Linked DNA regions of Homo sapiens: all the other regions are linked to region 1. The links come from fine-mapping of genetic effects on gene expression. A gene starts in region 1. Each other region holds a variant in brackets. All regions are shown on one strand. Distances are from middle to middle. Region 1 holds the start of NAE1 (NEDD8 activating enzyme E1 subunit 1). Region 2 holds the start of LOC107984821 (a long non-coding RNA gene). Region 3 overlaps DYNC1LI2 (dynein cytoplasmic 1 light intermediate chain 2).

Evidence for each region. PIP is the estimated chance that this variant, and not a neighbour inherited with it, causes the effect.
Region 2: its variant is fine-mapped to the expression of NAE1 in lymphoblastoid cells (GTEx, PIP 0.93). The same link has a PIP of 0.9 or more in esophagus mucosa.
Region 3: its variant is fine-mapped to the expression of NAE1 in whole blood (INTERVAL, PIP 0.93).

Annotation. Positions count from the first base shown.
Region 1 is chr16:66,826,984-66,835,003 of GRCh38, forward strand. NAE1 (NEDD8 activating enzyme E1 subunit 1) reads right to left here and starts at 3,993. Exons shown (of 20, transcript NM_003905.4): 1 at 3,864-3,993. The coding sequence starts at 3,916. RefSeq lists silencers at 3,468-3,677, 3,688-3,747, 3,729-3,953 and an enhancer at 3,717-4,217.
Region 2 is chr16:66,901,224-66,909,243 of GRCh38, forward strand. It overlaps CDH16 (cadherin 16), which reads right to left. Exons shown (of 18, transcript NM_004062.4): 18 at 6,899-7,266. The coding sequence ends at 7,169. It overlaps LOC107984821 (a long non-coding RNA gene), which reads right to left and starts at 4,037. Exons shown (of 3, transcript XR_001752244.2): 1 at 3,868-4,037. RefSeq lists an enhancer at 1,950-4,434. The variant C/T (reference allele first, on the strand shown) is at 4,612.
Region 3 is chr16:66,722,517-66,730,516 of GRCh38, forward strand. It overlaps DYNC1LI2 (dynein cytoplasmic 1 light intermediate chain 2), which reads right to left. Exons shown (of 13, transcript NM_006141.3): 8 at 7,596-7,707; 9 at 6,524-6,583; 10 at 5,685-5,726; 11 at 5,172-5,289; 12 at 3,312-3,428; 13 at 1-1,306. The coding sequence ends at 1,206. Among named protein-coding and RNA genes, the nearest start is that of DYNC1LI2, 25 kb to the right of the region's middle. The variant T/G (reference allele first, on the strand shown) is at 4,570.

The DNA of each region.
Region 1 (8,020 bases):
GGAGAGGGTCAAATTAGAAACAGAAACTTGGTCTTCCAGCCCCTTATCAGCCTGGGCACAAGAGCGACACTCTGTCTCAAAACAAACAAACAAACATTTAAAAAGCGTCTTTGGATTTAAACCCTCATCTGTTTTCTATTTCATTTATTCTTTGTTTTGTTTTGAGACAGAGTCTTGCTCTGTCACCCAGGCTGGAGTGTAGTGGCATGATCTCAGCTCACTTGGCCTCCCAAAATGCTGGGATTACAGGTGTGAGCCACCGTGCCCAGCCCTATTTCATTTATTCTTAAATTATGTTAGATGTGCCAGGTGCAGTGGCTCACACCTGTAATCCCAACACTTTGGGAGGCCAAGGCAGGCGGATCACGAGGTCAGGAGATCGAGACCATCGTGACTAACATGGTGAAACCCTGTCTCTACTAAAAAATACAAAAAATTAGCTGGGCGTGGTGGCAGGCGCCTGTAGTCCCACCTACTCGGAGGCTGAGGCAGAAGAATGGCGTGAACCCAGGAGGCGGAGCTTGAAGTGAGCCGAGATTGCGCCACTGCACTCCAGCCTGGGCGACAGAGCGAGACTCCGTCTCAAAAAAAAAAAAAATTATATTAGATGCATTTAAGTTAAGTTAGATGCATTTAAGATCTCGACATAGGGCTTATTACTGTGACTTCTGCAAAAGCTTTACCAAGAAAACTGAATTATCATCTGAAAAGCCTCACATCAACTTCTACAGGAGTGCTTTAAAGTATATTACCCAATGAACATTCTAATAGAGTGATTAATGTGCCTTCCCTGTTACCTGATTTAAAGCAGATTACCCCTTATTATGTAGTCAGTATGTCCTCCAGAGCATGTCAAGCAACTGCCTTGTTTTTTGTTTTTGTTTTTGATACAGGGTCTTACTATGTTATCCAGACTGGTCTTGAACTCCTGGGTTCAAGCATTTCTCTCGCCTCAGCCTCTAGAGTTGCTGGGACTACAGGCACAAGCCACTGTACCTGGCTTCATTTGTTTTTGTTTGCTGAGCATCCATCTTTCCACTCCACTGTATGCTCCATAAGGGCCCAGACAGCTGTCAAATGTATGGAGGAATCGCCTAGAAGAACCAGATGGACCGTAAACGCCTGTTTTCTCCATCAAAGTATGGCACGTAGAAGACACCTGACATATATGGTTGATGGATGCTTAGATAGTTGGAGAGTAAATTTAAGAATACTGGTGCATCTTGGCTGGGCGCAGTGGCTCACGCCTGTAATCCCAGCACTTTGGGAGGCGGAGGCAGGCAGATCACCTGAGGTCAGGAGTTTGAGACCAGGCTGGCCAACATAGTGAAACCCCGTCTCTACTAAAAATACAAAAATTAACCAGGCACAGTGGCACGCACCTATAATCCCAGCTACTAGGGAGGCTGAGGCATGAGAATCGCATGAACGCAGGAGGCGGAGATTGCAGTGAGCCAAGACCGCGCCACTGCACTCCAGCCTGCGCAACACAGTGAGACTCCGTCTCAAAAAAAAAAAAAAAAAAATACTGGTGCATCTCAAGCAGGGTGAGATAGTGTGTGTGCCTGTAGTCCCAGCTGCTTGGGAGACTGAGGCAGGAGGATCACTCCAGCCCAGGAGATCAAGGCTGTGGTGTGCCAATAATCATACCTGCGAACAGCCACTGCACTCCAGCCTGGGTAACATACTGAGACCCACCTCAAAAATAAAACAAAAAGAATACTGAGGCCAGGCACTGTGGCTCATGCCTGTAATCCTAGCACTTTGGGAGGCTGAGGCAGGAGGATCACTTGAGTGCAGAGGTACGAGACCAGCCTGGGCAAACCCCCATCTCTAAAACAGTTAGCTAAGCATGGTGGCACATGCCTGTAGTCCCAGCTACTCAAGAGGCTGAGGCAGGAGGATCGTTAGAGCCCAGGAAGTTGAGGCTGCAGTGAGCAGTGTTCTTGCCACTGCACTCTAGCCACTGCACTCTAGCCTGGGTCACAAAGTGAGACCTTGTCCCTGAAAAAAAAAAAAAAAAGAATCCTGGTGTGTCTCTAAGTAACATGTTTCAAGAATAGGCCAAATGAATCAGTCCTCTCTACTATCTTGCTGGCCCAACTAACGTGAAGTAAGGAGGGGCTTATTGACTGCTGCATTTTGCTTCTAACTGCTTCCCTTTGACACTTCAAAACCAGTTCTCACTATGAAAGTAAAGTTTGGGACTTAAATGGAATGCCCTCAGCAAAAACCCTCTTTTGTTAGAGTTGCTTAGTAACCTCAACTATCTTCTCAGCTCTGTCATGTACAGTTATACCTGCATTAGAAACACAAGAACTCCAAGAATTTACAAGAAAACCTAAGTTGGTTATAAGGACTGTTACCCTGTTTCTTCTCCGAAAAGCTTGGAAGCAGGATGTAACTGAGTACCTCCGAAAAAGCCAGAAGAGCCTTAGTTTACATCCTGGCTCAAAGATATGGGGAACTCTGGGCAAATTACCTAACTTCTCCAAGACTCTGTTTCTCCAACTGTAAAGCACAGGAAATGGTTGCTTTCAAGGGTACTCTCAGAACTAAGTGCCTAAAGCCTCTACTACAGCACTAGGCTGGTGGCGCAAACAGAAGCTCCAGTCCTTGGGGACATATAACTTCTGTTGTCTCAGAGGCTCCAGGAAGGAGGAAAGCTGAGCAGCTTTGTTATCTCCACAGCCTCAAGACACAGAAGACGCTCAATAAATAAGGAATGGGTAGTGCAAGGAGAAAAGGCAAGGGTGGGGAAGTACCCAAGGACCCTCCTGATGGCTTAGGCCTGCACTGTCCATTAAGGTAGCTGCTAGCCACATGTACTACTGAGCACAAGCAATGAGGCTAGTGTTAACTGAGATGTGCTGGTAAGTGTAAAATACAATATTTATACGATAGTTTTGGGGGGGCTTTTTTGACGGAGTCTCGCTCTGTCACCCAGGCTGGAGTGCAGTGGCACGATCTCGGCTCCCTGAAACCTACACCTCCTGGATTCAACCGATTCTCCAGCCTCAGCCTCCAGAGTAACTGGGATTACAGGCGCGCACCACCACGCCCAGCTAATTTCTGAATTTTTAAATAGAAACAGGGTTTCACCATGTTGCCCAGGCTGGTCTCGAACTCCTGACCTCAGGTGATCCGCCCGCTTCGGCCTCCCAAAGTGCTGGGATTACAGGCGTGAGCCACCGTGCCGGTCCTCCAAGACAGTTTTAAAAAGGAAAATACTCATGACCAGCTTGGGGAAAGGTGGCAAAAACCTCGTTTCTACAAAAACAAAAATAAAAATAAAAATAAAAATTTAAGTAAAATATCTCAAGAACTTTTTATATTGTGTTGAAATAGTAATGTTTTGGACATATTGGGTTAAATTGTATTTAAAAATCAATTTCATCTGTTTCATTTTACCTTTAGTGTGGTTACTAGAAAATTTATAATTACATTTGCGGCTCACATGAGACTAGCATTTTATTTCCATTGGACAGCGCTGGCTGAGAACAAAACCTAACCCTCTGTGCCGCCCTCGCGGCCGGGATGCGGTGCGCCCCGGGCCTCCCCATTCGGAAAACGAGGAGCCTGGGCGCAACGGGGCCGGCAGCCGCCTTAGCTACCCGGCTGGCGCTGGGGACCCCGTCCCCCGAACTGCACACCGCGTGGCGGGGGAAGGGGTCCCAGCCCTCGCGGAGCACCTTTGGCCCAGGGCGGGAGCTCCGAGCGCCGGCTTCCCGCGCCCCGCACGGCCCGGCCCAGCCTGGAAGAAGGCCTGAGGAAGGCCCGACCGCGCCGCCCGCGCCCTTAGGCCCGGCCCGAATGCTGGAAAGCCCGCCGGCCCGCCCTCGGCTCGGTGAGCCTCGGCTCACCTCAGCTGCCGGTCGTACTTCTGCTCCTTGAGCAGCTTTCCCAGCTGCGCCATGGCCGCGCCTGCCGCGCGGAAAACAGCCGAGCCCCTGCGGAGCGCCGCCACCAGCTCCACAAGCGCGCAGGCGCACTGAGCGCCCCTTCGCCGCTACCGTCTCCTGCGCGCTGCCTGCAGGGGGCGCCGCACTGCACTGCGCACGCGTCGCCGGTACGCCGGGGCCTAAGCGGCCCTGGTACCCGAGCGGGTCTGGGGCTCTTGGTCCCCATCGGCCAGAAAGGCAGACCCGCTAGCCTGCCAATTTGCCCTCTGTCCATGCAGTAATTGGGGGCGACTGGGGCATTGGAATCAGGCATACTTGTATTTCGACCACTTAACTGGCTGTGAGATCTACTCTTTACCTCTCAAATCCTCAGTGTGCTCACCTGTGCAGTGGGGATAAATGGGTCCCAAGTGTCTTTTGACCTTAAATGAGATTTTGAATACAGGAGGCCAGACTCCCCCCAAATCTTGCATGAATAATAACTTTCATTTTGATGATCATTATTTTTCACCCATTTCTTCCTCTCATGAAAAGCCCACAAGCCTATTTTGAATCACAAAGCTAGGGGCTCCCTGCTGCAGATGCAGACAAGTCCAGGGCTCTGTTCTTGGAGAGTTTAGTCTCATGAAGGAAGAGGGACAGCAAACAAGCACTTACCAGACAATGTGGCCTTCCTCTAGATAGAGGGAAGCAGGGTGCTCAGGGGTGCACAGAAGAACCTCCCCAGTCCCCCTCTCCAAGAATGTTTCATGTGGTTTGGAGATGGAGGAGTGTTTTGTTTTGTTTTGTTTTGTTTTGTTTGAGACAGGGTCTCTCTCTATTGCTCAGACTGGAGTTCGGTGGTGTGATCTCAATTCACTGCAGCTTCAACCTCCCAGGCAGCAATCCTCTCACCTCAGCCTCCCAAGTAGCTGGGACTACAGGCATGCACCACCACACCTGGCTAATTTTTGTACATTTTTTGTAGAGATGGGGTTTCGTCATGGCCCAGGCTGGTCTCAAACTCCTGGGCTCAAGCGATCTGCCCGCCTTGGCCTCCCAATGTGCTGAGATTATAGGCATGATCCACTGTGCCCAGCTGGAAGGGTGTTTTAAGCATAAGGAACAGCAGGTGCCATCTCTAGGAAGCAAAGAAGGCATAGCAAGCTGTAGGTGCTAGAGTAAGTTTGGTCAGGTGAAGGATAGGGAGTGGTTGAGAAGGTTTGAGAGACAGTTGGGACAGGCTGGGTTCTGAAGACTGTGAACATAGATCCAAGGAGGAATTTAAAGTCCTCCACTTCCTGAAAAGACCCTCCTTTCAGGAAGAGAACGGCTGTCCTGTGGGGATGGGAGGCCAAGGAAGGAGGTTACCCCATGAGAACAATTGGGAGGGGGGTGGTGGTGCTGAAGACAAGGTGACCATCTGTGAGGGAGACGAAGACTCCTTCCCTGCTATCTCGCAGACCCTACAGGCACCTTCAGGTTAATAACTGCCTGAAATAAGGTGAAAATGAACACAGATCCCCACCCCCAATCCCCTAGGATGGGGACCAGAGAGATGGCACAGTTTGATGGTAATGATGCAGTGATGATGAATTGCACTTTGCCCTGGGCATGGTCTCCTGGACTAGGGTGAGAGTACACCTTCCCATACCTTCCCTTGCCCTTACCCAGCTCCCATGGAACACACTGATGGGAAACAGAGGTGTGAGGCTTTCCCAGCTCATCATGTGTTTGTGCTGTCACATTTCCTTCTCCAAGTGGACAGGTAAAATATAAGGGATAATAAAATACACTCCGGGAAAGTAGGAAGGTCAAAAGGCAGCAGATGAGAGTTCACTGCTTAGTTTCTCATACCTATGGACTTCATGAAAGGAAACACCCACAAATTTGGTAGAAGGCTAGTCATATTGCCCGTGAAGAAGTAAATGATTTTGAAAAGGTTTGTGTTGGTGTTGTCTGTAAAATGATACCTCAGGGTATCAGTTTCCTAGGAATGTCGTAACAAAGAACCACAAACTGGGTGACTTAAAACAAGAGAAATTTATTGTCTCACAGTTCTGGAGGCTGGAAGTCTACAATCAAAGCACGGGTGGGACTATGCTCCTTCTGAAACCTGTAGGGGAGAATCCGTCCGCTTCTTCTTGGCTTCTGGGGGTTTGCTGGCAATCTTTGGCTAGCAGCCACAGCACTTCAGTCTCTGCCTCCATCATCACATGGCATTCTCCCCTCATGTCTCTGTGTTTCCTCTCTTAAGGACACAAGTCACATTGGATCAGGGCTCACACTGATGACTTCATCTTAACTGGTTTACACTTGCAGAGACCCTGTTTCCAAATAAGATCACCTTCACGGGTACTGGCAGGTTAGGACTTCAGTAACTTCTGAGGAGGACATAATTCAGCCCAGAAGCTTTGTATTAATATTATCATTATTTTTTTAGAGGTGGGGTCACACTATATTGCCCAGACTTGTCTCAAACTCCTGGGTTGAAGCAGTCCTCCTGCCTCAGCCCCTCAAAGTACTGGGACTACAGGCATGAGCCACTGCACCTGGCCCTGCCCATTTTTAATAGGGTTATTTGTTTTATTGTTATTGAGCGGTCTGAGTTTGTACATTTTGGATATTAGTCCCTGATCTAATGTATATTTTGTAAATATTTTTTTCTCAATCTGTGGGTTGTCTCTTTATTCTGTCATTTCCTTTGCTGTGCAGAAGCTTTTTAATTTGGTATAAACCCATTTGTCTATTTTTGCTTTTGTTGCCTATGCTTTTGGAGTCTGGTTACTATTTTTTGGCAGCAGTGGGGGACAGGATCTCATTCTTTCACCTGAGCTGGAGTGCAGTGGTATAATCATGGCTCACTGTAGCCACAACCTCCTAGGTTCAAGCAATCCTCCCACTTCAGCCTCCTGAGCAGCTGAGACTACAGGCACCCACCACCACACCTGGCTAATTTTTAGATTATTTTCTGTAGAGATGAAAGTGAAAATAATAATAATAATTCAACCCGTAAAACCATGTAAAGGTGCCTATGCTGGAGCAGAGGAGGCTGATCAGACACAGTTCTTTTGACGGCCCTGACATGAAAGAATTCAGGGCCCACTGGTGAGTTCTCCCTGTTGTGGAGGGTGGAAACCAGATATATCAGACCAGGAAGCCATGGTGTAATTCATTTAAGCTATTGGTTTTCAAAGTGTGGTCCTGGACCAGCGGCATCAACATCACTTTGGAAACTTGTTAGAAAGGCAAATTCGGCCAGGCGCGGTGGCTTACGCCTGTAATCCCAGCACTTTGGGAGGCAGAGGCGGGTGGATCATGAGGTCAGGAGATCGAGACCACGGTGAAACCCCGTCTCTACTAAAAATACAAAAAATTAGCTGGGCGCAGTGGTGGTCGCCTCTAGTCCCAGCTACTCGGGAGGCTGAGGCAGGAGAATGGCGTGAACCAGGAAGGTGGAGCTTGCAGTGAGCCGAGATCCCGCCACTGCACTCCAGCCTGGGCGACAGAGTGAGACTCCGTCTCAAAAAAAAAAAAAAAAAAAAAAAGAAAGGCAAATTCTTGGCTGGGTACAGTGGTTCATGACTGTAATTCCAGCACTTTGGGAGGCCAAGGCAGGAGGATTCCTTGAGGCCAGGAGTTTGAGACTAGCCTGAGCAACATAGCAAGACCCTGTCTCTACAAAAAGAAAAAAAAAAATTAAAAATTAGCCAGGCATGGTGGTGTATGCCTGTAGTACTAGCTACCTGGAAGGCTAAGGTGGGAGGATCACTTGAGCCCAGGAGTTTGTGGTTGCAGTGAGCTATGATCTCGCCACTGCACTCCAACCTGGGCAACAGAGTGAGACATTCCTCTCTTAAAAAAAATTAAGTATTAAAAAAAAAAAAAGAAAGCCAGGTAAGGTGGTTCACTCCGGTAATCCCAACACTTAGGAGGCTAAGGCAGGAGGATTGCTTGAGCCCAGGAGCTCGAAACCAGGCTGGGTGACATGGCGAAACCTTGTCTCTGAAAAAAAAAGAAACACAAATTCTTGGACCTTATCCATACTTGCTGAATCAGAAACTGTAGAGTGAGGCCCAGGAAACTGTTTTAACAAATCATCCAGGTGATTCTGATACATGCTTGATCCTACCCTGGCT
Region 2 (8,020 bases), 74 kb after region 1:
AACAGGGTGTGGGGCACTCTGCCTGGGCTCTGCCGGCGAGGAGCAGGAACTGGACAGAACCAGAGTGAGCTGGAGTGTCTCCTCCTTAGCCTGGGCCCTGGGCAGCAGGGCTGGGAATGGAATTCTCCAGTTGGATGGAGCTGTTCCTGGAAAATCCCTATATGCCCTCCCAGAAATGTGCTCTTGTGCCTGGCTCTTGCTTCTTCAGAGTTGGAGGAGAAGGGACCTTTCTGCTGCTAGGCAATTCAGGCAAGGCCCTTACCCTCTCTGGACCCCTGGGCCTAGACTCCAGGACAGATGAGCAGGGATTTGTGCATCTATTGAGTGCCATCTGTCAGCCTCACTAAATTCTCTCACCCACCCTGAGAGGCAGGGATCAGGGTTCCCATCATTTGGGAAGGAGGTAGATGCTCGGAGATGCCAAGTGGCTTACCCAAGGTCACATAGCGGAGTTGGGACTCAAGCCCCTACCGATCGAGCGTCAGCCTGCACGCAGTTCCAGCCCCCGACCTACATTTAGGGTCCCTGAATGGACAGAGCAAGCCCGCAGGCTGAGGATGCCACTGCCAGCTCAGGTCCACCTGACTGAGGCCAGGCCTGGCCCTGTGCCTGCCACTCAGAATAACCCTTGTGGTTCTGGGCATGGATCGTGGCCCATCACCTGGGACCTATTTTTGTCCTTCGGGTAACAAGGAAGTCTCACCTTGTGCAGTAACTGTTTGGGACAAGGATGGAACATATGACCCCCCAACCCCAGCTGATCTTGCTGCCCTGCTGGGAAGTGACCCCAATAGGGAAGGGGAGGGCCTGCCCCAGCCACTTCCCAGAACTTGGCTTCCTACCCTCATCCCCCTCTTCTCAGCAGCCCATACCCCTGCACACACACACACACACACACACACACACACACACACCCCATAACCAGAGTCCCAGAGCATCTACATTTGTCCTTAGGATCCATTGCCACGCCTTATGCAGTGGCAATGCCACTTTCTCACATCTAGCTGTGGACCAAGCCCATTTCCTCAGGTTCCAGTCAGAGGGCTCTAGAACCCAGGTACAGTGGCCAGCCAGGGATCTAGCATCTAGAACTGGACATTCAGAATTGGGGGCCTGGAATCCTATGGGGCAGTGGCTGATGGCATTTGAAGAAATCACAGAAGCTGTGGGCACAACTACATCCACTCTGAAAGGTCAAGTGCCATCTCGAGGGTCAACCCCAAAAGCCTTATATAGAAGGGGGGATTCCTGTATGGAGTGGAGCACAGAGACATAGAGGGCACCCCAGCAGACTGAGAGGGGCTGCTTTCTGCTGAAACTAGGCGTGTACACATGTATGGGGATGGGGTGGGAAGGGTCATGTCCCGAACCCAGTAACATAAAATAAATGCATAGAAAAAAGACTGGAAAGAAATCTGGTAAAAACATAACTATAACAACAAAACCAAGAATGACTGCAGCTGTAATGACAATAATAACAGAAGCTGTTCCATTTTTTGAGAGCCAATTATGTGCCAGCCTCTGTGCTAAGTAAGGGCTTTGCTTGTATTATCTCAGTTAATCCCCACAGCATGCTCTTCTCTGGGTGGGGGTGGGTGGGCAGTGGCCTGTGGGGTGTGCTCTGTAAATGTGGTTGTTTTCTGCCAGGTCTGCAGCTTCCGCAGAGGTAGACAGAGGAGCCCTTAGGCCCCATCTATAGGAGATGTCGTGCTCTCCTTGCCAGCAATGCAGGGTGTGAGATGGGATGGCCAGCCCCCTTGGGGATGCCTTCGGGGAGCCAGCCAGGCCCACTGAGCTAACCTCAGCCCCCACTTGGCCCTACTCCTCTAGGCGTTGGGGCTCAAAATAGCAGCTGCTCGAGAGCTGACAATCAAAGGCCAGCTAAAAAAAGGCCCCTCAGTCTGGGCTCTGTCGCACACGGCTCGTAGAGCCTATTTTAGGGGAGAGGGTGCCGACATGCCAGTGGAAAATCCATAGGGCGGGAGTCTCCCAAAGTGGGAGACCCATATGCCTCCCTCTCCCCACTCTGGCCCCCCCACCCAAGTGCTCACGTGCACACACACTCACATTTTGCAGCCGTCAGCCTGCTTCCTGACCACTGGACCCTGTCATCTCCACCACAGCCCAGGAGAGGGATGAGGAAATTGAGGCTCAGAGATGGGAATTGACTTGCCCAAGATCACGAGGCTGGGAAGTAGGCAGGACAGCCACCAGATGGGGCCACTGTGGCTCACAGTTCAGTGCTCTCCCGTGGAAGAAGCCACATCACTGAGGAAGCCAATACATTGTTCTCTGGAGTGCCCAAAGCTCAGAGATGGGGCCAACGGTGGGGTGTTCTGGGTTGGACTGAGGGTGAGTAGGAGCTGAGGGTGACCTGTGGTCTTAGTCTCCGCATGGGAAGAAATCTCACTAGAACCCCCCAGGCCAATTCTGAGGGGACCTTGCCTGGCTGTGGGAGAGGCAGCTGGAGCGGGTCCTCATCGGCACTGAGCCCAGCCCAGCCCCCTCATCCTATCCCTGTGACCACCTCACGCCCTGCCCCGCCCAGGCCCCCAGAGGCTGGCAGGCCCTGCCAAGTTTCCAGGGAATGTGTCAGATAAAGGGCTGGTGCTCATGACTCTCTCCCACGTAGCAGCTATCTCTGACCCTACTGCCACTACCACTGCCACCGCCACTGGGAGGTGGATAAGAATAGCAACAGCCCCAGTGAGTGGGCACCCACAGGGACACAAACCATGTCTTTAGGTGTCCAGCCTCAGCCTCAGACTGAGGATGAGTCTCCAGGTTCCCCTTTCCATCAGTTCCAGCCCCACCTAGCTCCCCCATCATCCTGGGCCCAAAATCCTACCACATCTTAGGGTAAAACTCCAAGCCTCATCCCTTGTGGCTGCTGCCTCAGCAGGGGGAATCTGGAGGGGATGCCATCGCCACATTGATCCTGAGCTGGGGCCTGAGCCCTGCCCTTCACTGGGGAGCTGTATGACATGGAGCTGGACATTGTCCCTCTCAGGGCCCACAAGCAGGGCAAGGTGGCACAGCAGCCCCTGGAGAATGAGATAGCCAGCCGAGGCCTCTCCAGGGGCTGGGTACCCCGTTGTCCTGGTGACCACAGTCTAGTCTGGCTTCTGAGTGCCCCTGTGAATTCTGGCTTTCTGGTCAGTGGGGATGTGAAGACAGTGAGGGTCCTCATGTCTCACAGATAGGGGTCACTGGGATACGACCACTGGGTGGTGTTGGGGGGGCCCTGCATGAGTCCTGTGACACTCCTGTGAGGGTGTGAGGGTAGCTGCGTGACTACAAGGTAAGAGGCTGTTGTCATGGAACCCATGGTGAGCGTAGTTGTGACACCGGAATCGGGAGATCCAGGGAGCCTCATCTCCAACTGTGACACATGGGGGTGATGGAGGGAGCCGAGTCCCAGTCCCCACATCAGTGACTCCTGCAGCTCTCACAGCCTGACTCATTGCATGGCCCCGGACCTGGTACCCCCAGCCTCCTCGCCCCCGGCTCTGGCGCCTTTCTCTCCTCGCGTCCTCCCTGTTCTCAGGCGACTCTTCCTCTTTTGTACCCCCCCCATGTCACCCACCTACCAAAGGGGTCCCAGGGAGGAGGTCAGGGATGCTAGGGAAGAACGAGGAAGGGTGGGCCGAGGCAAGCTCCTCGCACACTCACACATTCCGATGCGTGCATCACACAGACCAGACTGCAGCATATACTTATACACCCACAGACACACGTGTGCACACACGCCTGGTAGAGTGACTGGGCCACTAAGAAGCCTCCCAAGCTCAGTCTTCCAACATCAGCCCTGTCTGGTAGGCCCCCACCACCCCTTAAGTCAGGGTCCCATGCCGCTGAGGCCCTCACATTAGAAACGCATCCTCCCGCCGCAGCAGTGTGTCTGGAGGTGACACCCTAGGAAGAACTTCTGCCCCGAGGCCCCAGCTAGAGTCCTGGGTGGGTGTAGGTAGATGTGGGTGGGGTGGGGTCTCTGAGGGCCCGAGACTGTTGCTTTCTTTGTGGGTGAGGGCCAGACTGACCTCTGGGCCTCCGGCTTCAAGAGCCCTAATCGCTGGGGCTGGAAAAAGTTTAAAAATATCCTCATGTTTACATTCTTTCCAAGCTGCCTCCTGATCCTCCGTGCTGGGTCCCTTTGATCTGGCCCAGTGCCTCTGGAAGGGGCCTGGGAGAAGGGGAGCATGAGGCCTCTGCTGGGGCCCACCCCTCAACCCCCTCCAGCTCCAGCCCAGAACCCTGTGAGACCCTGGACATCACAGACCCTAAGAGCACCTGGGCACTGGAAGGGAGCTGGGGCTGGAAGGGGTGTCTTGCACTCTTGCTTTGGGGCTGGAGCTGGGGCCCCTCTCCAAACTCCCTCCCAAAAGCCTGGGCCTCTTGGGACCTCTAGGGAGTGTGTGTAAGTGCGGGGATGTAGGTCCCTCAACAATCCATGCACTGGGGAAAGTCACATTTACTGAGCCCTGCAGTGCCTGGCACTGTGCTAAATGCATTGTGCAGGGATTATCTCATGTAGTTTTCCTAACGACAAAAACTTGTATCACCAAGTAAGCCAAGGCTCTGAGAGGTGAAGCAGTTTTCCTGGGAACACAT[C/T]GCATGGATAAGCACAACACATGCTCTTCTACCCATAGAGCTATTGGTTGGCCCCCACCTTGCTCTAGCAGGGGCGAGGCCCTGCCTACAGAATGAAGCCTGCCTCACTAGCATTAATCTCTACAGGCATTCACTGGCCCACTGCCAAGCCTAGAGACCAATCAGCTTTGTGTCTCTCTTCCTCTGCGACCCAGGATAAGCCACACCCCCTCTCTGATCCTCACCTTTCTCTCTTTCTGTTTATGTAGAGACAGAGTTTCACTTTGTTGCCTAGGCTGGCCTTGAACTCCTGGCTTCAAGCAATCCTCTCACCCTGGCCTCCCAAAGTGCCAGGATTACAGGCATGAGCCACCGCACCTGGCCACCTTCCTCTGCAGAATGGGGCTGAGGATACAGGAGAGTTTTATGTCCCCAGATGCCCAAGGAACCTGGGCCCTTGTCTGTGGAGAAGGGGCTTGTGGACCTGGCGGTCAGCTCCAGCAGTGACAACCAAGAGTGGTCCGGGGCCTGGAGGCCCGAGGAAGAAGCCCTCAAACTAGAGCAGATGCCTTCATTTGCCCTGGTATCCTGTCATCCACCCTTTCGTCTGTGGGTCTCCCATCCACCCGATTACCAACCCACCCATCCATCTACCCACCAATCCATCCAGCCATGCATCTGCCTAGCCATCCACTTATTCATTCACCCATGCACCCTCCTATCTCCCTACTTATCCATCTAGGATAAGGGCCAGAAAGTGGTGGTTATAGCTCAAGTGACGCATCTTATGGCTGTATGAACCTAGAAATTTCCCTCCTTCTCTTTGCAATTCACCTTTCCATCTTTACAAGAAAGAGCTGATCTGGGTGATCTCTAAGGCCCTGCTGGGAAATCTTGAGGGAGCAGAGACCACCTGAACGCTGTGGACATTTCCAGAGAGGTAACACGGACCTTGGACAGATAGTTATGCCATGTACCGTGGTTCTAAGACTCCCAGCTACGGCCCTTAACCTCCCTGATCTTCAAGATCCTCCACTGCAAAATGGGGCCAATAATCCACCCTCGTAGGTTGATAGGAAGATTAGATGAGACACTACCTCCAGAAGATTTGCACCCTGAAGACTTCTGAGTGCATGCAGGCTGAGCAGAGGATATCCTGGCAGAGGGGCAGGGAATCCCTGCCTGGATGAGGGTAGCCAGCAGAGCCTCCAGTGGGGGTACCTGAGCCAGGATGACAGGGGCCAGCCTCAGAGTCCAACCCCTGGGCTGGGGATCCTGGCTGAGTCTTTGCCAGGTTGCCCGCCCTGTCTCTCTTAGCTGGGCTTGGCCCCTATCCCACAGAATCTGCCAATAGTGGAGAGATTATCTCCTAAAAATAGGGCCTGGGCCCCACAGAGGTTGTTTTTCTCCCTTTCCCGTGATTGACCATCATCAGCTCATGGTGCTTGGGACAGCAAGTCCCACCCTGACTCCCCAGAGATGGTTGAGAAGGGGACATGGGGATCAGCATGTATCTTGAGTCACCCACAGGTCAGGGATTAGAGGTCAATCTGGAGAGCTCAGCTCCTACTTAGCAGGGCTCAGCCGGGCTCAGCAGAGCATCAGGACATGGCTTAATCTTGGGCCAGGGTCAGGGGTTCACCTCAGAGAGGGGCAGCTCCAGAGTAAGCCACGGGGGTGCCTGTCCCGCTCCGATTGTCTCCATCTAAGTGACTCCCCTTCTCTGATTTCCTGCAGATGCCCTCATGCACTCACCAGCCTGTGTGTGAAACACAGCAGTGCCTTGGAGCCTACACTGGGGCAGAAGGACGCATCCCCAGCCTCACCTCACATGCTCCTGACCCATGGGGCCTCACCATCCTGCCCAGGGCCCTGCAGAGACTGAGGGGCCTCTGCCCATCCCTGGGTGTAGGTGACTCATGCACAGGAGCACAAGGTGCTCACACATGAGCAGAAGATGGGGACTCACAAGGTTTTGCCTTCCCATAGCAAAGATGACATCCAGGAAAACACAGAGATGACACCCTCAAAGACACCCCTCCTTGACCATCACCTGCATAGAGTTCACCCATCCAGGGTCTGTAGCTGGTGGGCTCTGGATGCCCACAAAAATGACCCACTTTGCTGTGGCCCCAAGCTCTCACCAATAGCCCATATGATGTCTTCATGTCCTTCCCTGCAGGGGACCTCAGTCTTGTCCTTCAAGCCCAGACCCTTTCTATGTGGCAGGAGATGGGGAAGGGATGAAAAAGCAGGTGTGTGCACACTCACACACACACATGCACACATAGACACTGAGACACAGACATACCAATCCCATAGGGCCCAGCCCAGTTCTCTGGGGCTTTATTATTGGGCAAACACCCTGACATTTGGAGCACTCCCATGGGCAGTCCATAAAGTTGGTGTCCAGGCTCTGCAGACATGCCTGGTGATGGTGATGGTGCCTCCACCCCAGGGCAGATGGAGGGGCTTCTACTCTGTCCTGTCCCCTGCTGGATCTTGGGTGCTGGGCTCTCTCCCAGGGGACTCAGATGGAGCCAGAGGCCAAGCTCCCAGCTAGAGCTGCCTGGGCCATTCAGACAGTCGCCTTCAGGGGCACGCTGTCTGCTGGTTGATCCGGGTCCTTCTTCCTTGACATGGTCCAGTGGGTGAAAATGAGGATGAGGAAGATTCCTGTGGGGCCCAAGAGGGATGTATCAGGCCTCAGAAGGGGCTGTGGGACTTGTTCATCACGAGGGACTTCCTGTGATTGGCATTGGATTAATGAAGAGATGAGTTTCCTGGACAGCATCCTGAGGCTGGGCTGGGTATGACTCTGTGGTGGTGCCTGGAGAAGCTTGACTCCTCGGCCGGCTTGGCCCCTACCCCTCTGAGGCTGACCCAGTATACTCAGCCTCCAAAGTCCCCTTCTCTTGGGGACATCGGGGAACCAGTAAGTTGGATCCCAACTCCATGGACCTCCAAGAGAAAGGCTCATCACAGCAGTGTGCTAGAACCAGCAAGGAAAACCAGCAAGGAGAAAATTTGAGGGGCTAAAGAAATAAAGGGGATAGAAGGGGTGGCTTAGACTGATGCAATTAGGCTAGAAAGACCTGGGTTCTGTCACAACCTGACTGTGTAACCTTGGACCAGTCACTTAACCTCTCTGAGCCTCAATGACCTCATCTGCAAAATGGGGAGATACCAGGATCTACCTCACAGGGTTGCTGGGAGGATTCCTGGCAATAGTCCCTGCCACACAGTCAATGTGCAATCATGTGACCGTAGATGCTACTATCAATGATGATGACAATGACTATGATCAAAGGGCAGGCGCATAATGACTAGGAGAGTTGGGGGCTTCCTTTTTCAGAGCTAGGGGCACCATGGGGACAAAGGTGTTTATTTGGAGGCTGTGGTCCCAACCACCCATCGCCCTCGCCCACGC
Region 3 (8,000 bases), 100 kb before region 1:
CCATAAGAAAAAAAATGCTACATTTTATGAAAACACCTAACAAGAGAAATGTATCATTTCCATTTTCTGTATAAAACATTCACACTTATCTGTCCATCTCATAGCACTGATCAGACCAGGAAGCTAGGAAAAGACCCTTTTGCATCAGTGGAACTCCTTGAAGCTTTCCACAAGTCATAAGGCAGGGCTTGGTACGAGCCAATTAACCAGAGTGCAATTACATTAAAAACCTCCCCCAAACTTTCCGTGGCACATTGCATTATGGTAAAACCAGAGGTTCATCACCTATTTTGTATTAGTTAGGCCAGCCTGTGATAGTAAAAACAAAAAATTTAATTTAAAAAATAAAGCAGGAGCTATTTAGACAACAAAATTCAAAGTAAACTAATTCTGTAACTGCTGACTTTGAAGACATCCCACAGTGACTGTCTGCCCCACAACACATATCCGTGGACCCCAGTACCTCTCACGAGGACATAGCCTGGGCCAAGCACATGGGTCCTGGGCAGCTGCCATCGTTCCCACCCCTGGGTCAGCTCCGCCTGACTCAGGCACCCCCACAATTAGTACATCTTTCGTAAGTTAAAGATGCATTCAAAATAAGCCTAATTCCCATTTTGCTTAGTGTTTTGTTTGGAAATGCTTCTAACAATGATTCTTCAACTTCTACTGAATGCACAGTATTTACTGACACTGCTCATCTCCTCCTTCCTCCACCTCCCTCAACATTCAGCTTCCCCACCATCACTTGTCTCATTACTCCTTCTGGTCTTTCTTTCCTGGACTTTCTGCTACTTAATCTGCTTCCCAAGAACAAGTGAATTTACTAACATGAAACTGGTCAGACTAACCATCATCTTACCAATGATTTCTTGGTCTCATTTGCTCCACCCTGTTAGAAAGTGGGCCCTCTTTCTTTCACTCTACCTTCCCCTCCACAAGAAGCCCAGATGTGCTTGCCTCCCACAAAAGAGCCACATGCCCCAGAGTCCAAGGGTTATCCTTAACAAAGGGTCTGACATGTAACCTTCCTAAATGTGCATTTCACACTCGGACAAGCCAATGAAGTTTTTTTTTTTTTTTTAAAGTTCATCTCCCCTGCCCCAAAAAACTGATAGCATGTGCCATATCAGAAAAATCCTGGTCTTAGCAGATCAATATACATAGTTATTTGGTCATTCGACATATGCACTTTTTAAGGAGGTTCAGGCTTCATTTTCTGTTGAAGAGTTTGTTACCATAGAGTCTGGCTTTCGAGTCATTCTATCCAGTTCTTCCTGAACATTTGACAACACAGTCTTTTGTCCTGAAAAAAAAAAAAAGCAAAAAAGCAAAGTAATGATGTGAGAAGAGGAAACAATTTTTTTTAAAGGAGCATTTAAAATTATACGCCTTCTATAATCACTTGATGACAGTAACCTTAATAAGAATGAGGAAAGCCCTTTTCTACTGCAGTGGTGAGGAGACCCCAACTCGGCACATCCTAATCCCAAAAGTCACAGGCCAGTGCTTCCTCCAACTCCAAGGGAGTGACTTGACTGCTCTCTGGCGGGGGGTGCCTTTGTGCCAAATACAAGAACCTTTCTGAAAACCCTCTCACCACCCAACCCTGACCCCTGTGCACTCTCACCACCATCTTCCTAGAGGTAGTACCTGAATTTCAGCAACGAAGGAAACTATTTTCTTTGCCCCAGATAGGTGTTTTTGTTTATAACATTCTAGACTGACTCAAATGGATAGCCTGAAAACATTATGTTTCAATAAGAATAAGATAGTTCAGTCCTGCACAAAATCTATACTTGTATTTTTCTGCTGTCAGACACGAACAGGCCTAGAAATAGACACCTATTTCCCAGAAGGGAATACTACCAGCCCAGAGTCTGGGCCACTAGACCAGACTCTGAGTTTCTTAGAACATAGGAGCCACTGGAGGCCCAGGCTGCCCCAAGTGATTTCCTGAGGGTCTCCTCTGCCCTGAAGACATCAATTAGGGAAAACAATGTATAAACATACCTTATAGCCAATGGAAAATGGAAAGCAAAAACCCCTTAAAATGTCCTCCAGCTTCTTGGGAAAATGTGTAATTCCCAAGGAAAACATGTTTTGTTTTGTTTCAGAGATCTCCAAGACATAGACCCGCCCTACCTGCTTACATGGAAGGACAGGTGGGTGGCTGCCACAGAGGTGTGTATGTGACAAGTAGGGAGCTTCAGGGAGGAGGAGGCCTTGACTCTGCAGTGAGACAGTGAGGGTTCACAGCCAAACTGGGGGCAGTGGAGTAAACAAAAATCCTTACAAAGCATCACAGAAAAAAAAATAGAACAAATAAAACATCACTGGTTCAGAACAACTAAGGCTTTAGTATAATTTTAAAAAATTAAAAGTAGGCCAGGTGCACTAATCCCAGCACTTTGGGAGGCCAAGGCAGGTGGATCACCTGAGGTCAGGAGTTCGAGAACAGCCTGGCCAACATGGCGAAAAACCGTCTCTACTAAAAATACAAAAAAATTAGCCGGATGTGGTGGCGCGTGCCTGTAGTCCCAGCTACTCGGGAGGCTGAGGCAAGAGAATTGCTTGAACCCGGGTGGTGGAGGTTGGCAGTGAGTTGAGATCATGCCACTGTACTCCAGCCTGGGCGACAGAGCAAGACTCCATCTCTATCAAAAAAAAAAAAAAAGTCAGCCGCAGACGGTGGCTCACACCTGTAATCCCAGCACTTTGGGAGGCCAAGATGGAGGGATCACCTGGGGTCAGGAATTCCAAGACCAGCCTGGCCAACATGATGAAACCACATCTCTACTAAAAATACAAAAAATTAGCTGGGCATGATGGCACGCGCCTGTAATCCCAGCTACTCGGGAGGCTGAGACAGGAGAATCGCTTGAACCTGGGAGGCGGAGGTTGCAGTGAGATCACGTCATTGCACTCCAGCCTGGGCAACAAGAGCAAAACTCCACCTTGGAAAAAGAAAAAAAAAGTCACTGGTACACCCTCCATGGACCATGACTTCTACTGGAGAGGTTCTACAACAGGGCCACATATGTAATTTAGGCTATACCTCAACTCACCCAACACCCAGTTCCCGAGAACCCAAATGTACACAAATCCCACTCTCAATGTGCCAAGGAAACCTGCATGGTAGTAAGGCAATCCCACTGAAAGCACGGCACACTGCTCAGTAGGAAATGAAGACCTGCTTCCTTGCTTGGCTATTCAGGACACTGCAGGGTCTGCAGGGCAGGTGTCTGCCTCTCCATCCTTGCAGCACTACTCAACCACAAGAGTCACAAGTCTCCAGGGCCCTTCTGTACCTGACTTCTTGGCTGTGCTCTGCACCCCACCAGCACCAGGACTTCCAGGAGAGCCTGTCTTTTTACTCAACAGACTGTTGAAGAAGCTGGCCAACACCCCTTCACTTGCTGCATTATCTAAGGAAAATTAAAGAGAAAAAAAAGCATCATATAAACTGGAAGACTTAAAATTAAACACCCTAGTTCTCAGCTTGGCATTAGCCACTTGTGGCTATCAGCTTCCTAGGATATTGATAACATTCATTCGCTACGATGCCTTTACACTGCTACTGCTGAGGCTACTTAGCATGATTACTAAGTGGAACCATGTTTACATTTCCCACTTGTTTGGGAGCAGAATAGATAACCTGTGCTCCACACCACCTCCCCGTCCATGAGACAGTGTTTTTCAAAGTTGCATGAGCACTTAACATTCCAAACCTGCTGTGAAAAGCTCACATCCTGAATAGAAGACACCCATCAAACAAGCATTAAATAAAACTGTTTTTTAATGATTTTACTGCAGGCAGTATCTGTGAGTATCACTAAGTTACTGGGATAAAAGCTACTTAATCTGAAAAGTAATTGAGCTTGACAAGAGAAGTGAAGGGGGAAAAATCCCCACAATTCATAGACAGTCATCATATAAACATAATGAGAAACAAAGTTACAGATTCAAAATACACATTTTAAAGTGACTCCCTCAGCCAGGGGTGGTGGCTCACGCCTGTAATCCCATCACTTGGGGAGACCAAGGGCGTAGGACTGCTTGAGGCTAGGAGCTTGAGATCAGCCTCGGCAACGTAAGTGAGACCCCTACCTCTATAAAAAATATTTTTGTTTGTGTTTTTTTGAAATGGAGTCTTGCTCTGTCACCCAGGCTGGAGTGCAATGGCACAATCTCGGCTCACTGCAACCTCCACCTCCCAGGATTAAGCCGTTCTCCTGCCTCTGCCTCCCGAGTAGCTGGGATTACAGGTGCCCACCATCACGCCTGGCTAATTTTTGTACAGAGAAGGTTTCACCATGTTGGCCAGGCTGGTCTCAAACTCCTGCCCTCAAGTGATCTGCCCGCCTCAGCCTCCCAAAGTGCTGGCTTGAGTCACCACGCCAGGCCTTTTTTTTTTTGAAACAGTCTCTCACTCTGTCACCCTGGCTGGAGCATGGTGGCATAATCACAGCTCAACTGCAGCCTCAATGCCCTGGGCCCAAGCAATCCTGCCGCTTCATCCACTTGAGTAGATGGGACTACAGGCAAGCACCATCATGCCCAGCTAAT[T/G]TTTCAATATTCTGTAGAGGCGAGGTCTCACTATGTTGCCCGGGCTAGTCTCGAACTCTTTAGCTCAAGCTATCCTCCCACCTTGGCCTCCCAGAGTACTAGGATTATAGGCATGAGCCACTGCATCTGGCCTACAATAAAAATTTTAAAAATTAGCTGGGCATGGTGGCACACGCCTATAGTCCCAGCTACTCCAGAGTTGACATGGGAGGATCACTTGAGCCCAGGAGTTTGAGGCTGCAGTGTGCTATGATCGTATCACTGTGCCACAGGCTGGGTGACAGAGTGAGACCCTGTCTCTAAAAAAATAAAGTTACTATTTTGCATTCCTCTCTGAAGGAATGAGCAGGGCCTAAGTGAGGTCTCACACAGAGCCAGGTGCATGGGCTACCAATTCTAACAAAGGAACAGGCCCTGGTCTCTGCCTACCATGGACCTTCTTCCTCTGGAATGGGGGAAATGGAAAGTAGCCCTTATCGGGGAAGAGAATAGCCTGGCTTCCATGAGTCTCCACCTTATAGACTCAGCCACCCAGCCCCTGCAGGGCTCAGGTCTAAAACTAAACTACTCTCCAAAGAGACATACTTTTGAGGAATACATACTTTTGATGTTTGGGTCCGGCTTTTTTACTGACGTGCCTGGGGAGGAGCTAGGCACACTGGCTGGCCCTCCCCGACCCTGGGTCCTTGGAGAGCCAGAGGGTCCTCTTGCAGGAGATTCCTAAGTCCAAAAGCAGCTAAGGTCACACACAGGCATAACAATAACAAAAAATACATATGCCACAAATGGAGACATGCTTCTGAGGGATATTTTTCACAGGCTATGGTACAGGACTGGGAGTATGCTCTCAATTCAAGCCCTTTCTGGCTCTCTTTCTCCTGAGAGAAAGACATCCAGATAACAAAGCCAGCTCACTCTAATTCCCAGAGTTGTATTCTTTCATCAGAAACTTCTTGAGTTTCTTTTATGTTTCTGGTCATGGGTCTTTAGGGAAACCAAATTCCCACTGAAAATACAAAACCCACACAAATATACGCTCTCACAAATAATGGTATAAAGTTTGATGACACCCACAACACTGGGCCTTGACCCTCTGTTTAGTGTAAGGTACTCACAGAAGCTCTCGTGGGAGTGGCTGGTTGCTTGGCAAGGAGTGACTGCAAAGAGAGGGACAAACTGGCTATTAACCAAGGCCTGCAGAGAGCACTGAAGGTCTAGAGAAAAACTTACTCCAAGTACTCCACTAGAGGGCACTATTAACAACAACTAAGTCCTATGTTTTATACCACAGATGCCAAAAAATTTTAATTGAGCCGTTTGGTATATGGTGAAAAAAAATACTCCAAGTAACCAGTTTTGAAGCTAAGGAAGCAAGCAAAGGACAGAAAGGAAAAAGATGGAAAAAGAAGGAAACAGTTGGAAAAAGAACCATCAAAACTTCCTGCTGACCTGCCTGTACCACTGGGCAGATGATAGGTGGACCCAGGACACATCTAACAATAATCTGGGTGACAGAAATGGGAAGTCTGCATTCTAAACTGTCAGCTTGGGGAAGTTACTCTCCTCATCTGCAAAACAGGCATCACCTGCCTTTATGTACAGGGCTGTGTGAGGCTACATGAAATAATGGAAGTGTGGTCAGGTTACTTGGTTAACTGTCAACATAGGAAGTATTATGCCAGAAAACCACATTTCCAAAGAAAGAGCACTTAAAAGATGCGAATCCTACTATTCCTGTAGGAGAGTCTGCAAGGCAGGTAGGTGATCTCCTAAGGAGGTGGTCCATCCCCAACTAATCCTAGAAATAAGGAGGGAATGAGGAGACCTGGTCTCAACCCCTCTACCACTGCAAGCTCTTTGTGACTTCCCACATGCAGACACCCCCAACCCCACCCTAGGGACTGGCATTTCATGCATGAGAAGGCCTCTGTTCTAACCTCACTGGTCTTCTTACCTGTTGCTTCATTAGGAACACCTGCTCATCTTCTGCTGCCAACTCTTTGTCGTGGACCAGCTGTGAAACAACATACATGTTTGTGGCCACAGGCCAAGAATACTCCTAACCACTGTCAAACTTCATGCCGAAAGGAGAGTCCGAGGCTCAGGCTTCAACACAGGTCTGGGAGATCCCTACTGAGACTGCAGAGTAATATTTTTCTAGCCTGGCACAGACCTCTCCCAAAACCAGCCGCAGCATGTAGCCAACTGGCATTTTTAAGTCTGGCAGGTTCTAAACACCTCAGGGTCTGCAGGACATCACATGAGGGGATCCAGTAACAGTAATCCAGAGGCAACGGCAGCACTGGCAGGACTTAATGGGAAACACCACCAACTCCAGGTGAGCATTCCATCACTCCTTCCCACCAGCCCTGAGCCATTTACATAACGCCAGACCTCATTTAAAGATCAACAAAAAGGCCCTGGGACTTACTACTCCCCACTACCCCCCACAAACTATACAATGTGTAAGACCTGTTTCTTTATAGTTTTTTTTTTTTTTTTTTTTTTGAGATGGAGTCTCGCTCTTGTCACCCAGGCTGGAGTACAGTGGCCCGATCTCGGCTCATTACAACCTCCGCCTCCCAGGTTCAAGCAATTCTCCTGCCTCAGCCTCCCAACTGCTGGGATTACAGGAATCAGCCACCACGCCCCATCTTTATAGGCTTCTTTTTGCATTAAAAAACACCTAAACCCTTTTTCTTCTTTTCTTTTTTTGATATGGAGTCTCACTCTGTTGCCAGGTTGGAGTGCAGTGGCGCAATCTGGGTTCACTGCAATCTCTGCCTCCCAGGTTCAAGTGATTCTCATGCCTCAGCCTCCCAAGTAGCTGGGATTACAGGCGCTTGCCACCATACCCAGCTAATTTTTGTATTTTAGTGGAGATGGGGTTTTGCCATGTTCGCCAGGCTGGTCTCAAACTCCTGACCTCATGTGATCTGCCCGCTTTGGCCTCCCAAAGTGCTGGGATTACAGGCATCAGCCACCGCGCCCGGCCCTAAACCCTTAAAGCAATTGTCTTTGACTACCTTTCTCACGGGAGGTTTCACAATAAAGTCTTCATATGCATCTTCCGGCTTCACGGTTGTAAAATTTTCATGTAAAATAGCTATTTTCTTTTCATTGTCCCAGCCTGCAGGTCTAAAGGCAAAGAGAGAGGGACTGAATTGCTTTTCCTGGGGCTGCCTTAGAGCATACTCAGATCACATTCAGGACTCCTGGGTAGGACACTTCTCACAAGATATAGTGTGTAGTTGTTGGGGGTTGTTTGTAGCTTTTGGCAGATGTGCCAAAATACACTGTGGGTATAATCCATCAGAACATCGCAGGTCCTGCTCCATACTGAGTTCATGGGCCCAAGGTCTAAGGAGCCAGTATGAGATCCCATTCCACAGGCTGCCCCACTCAAAAGCATTTAGCACTCTCCCACAACT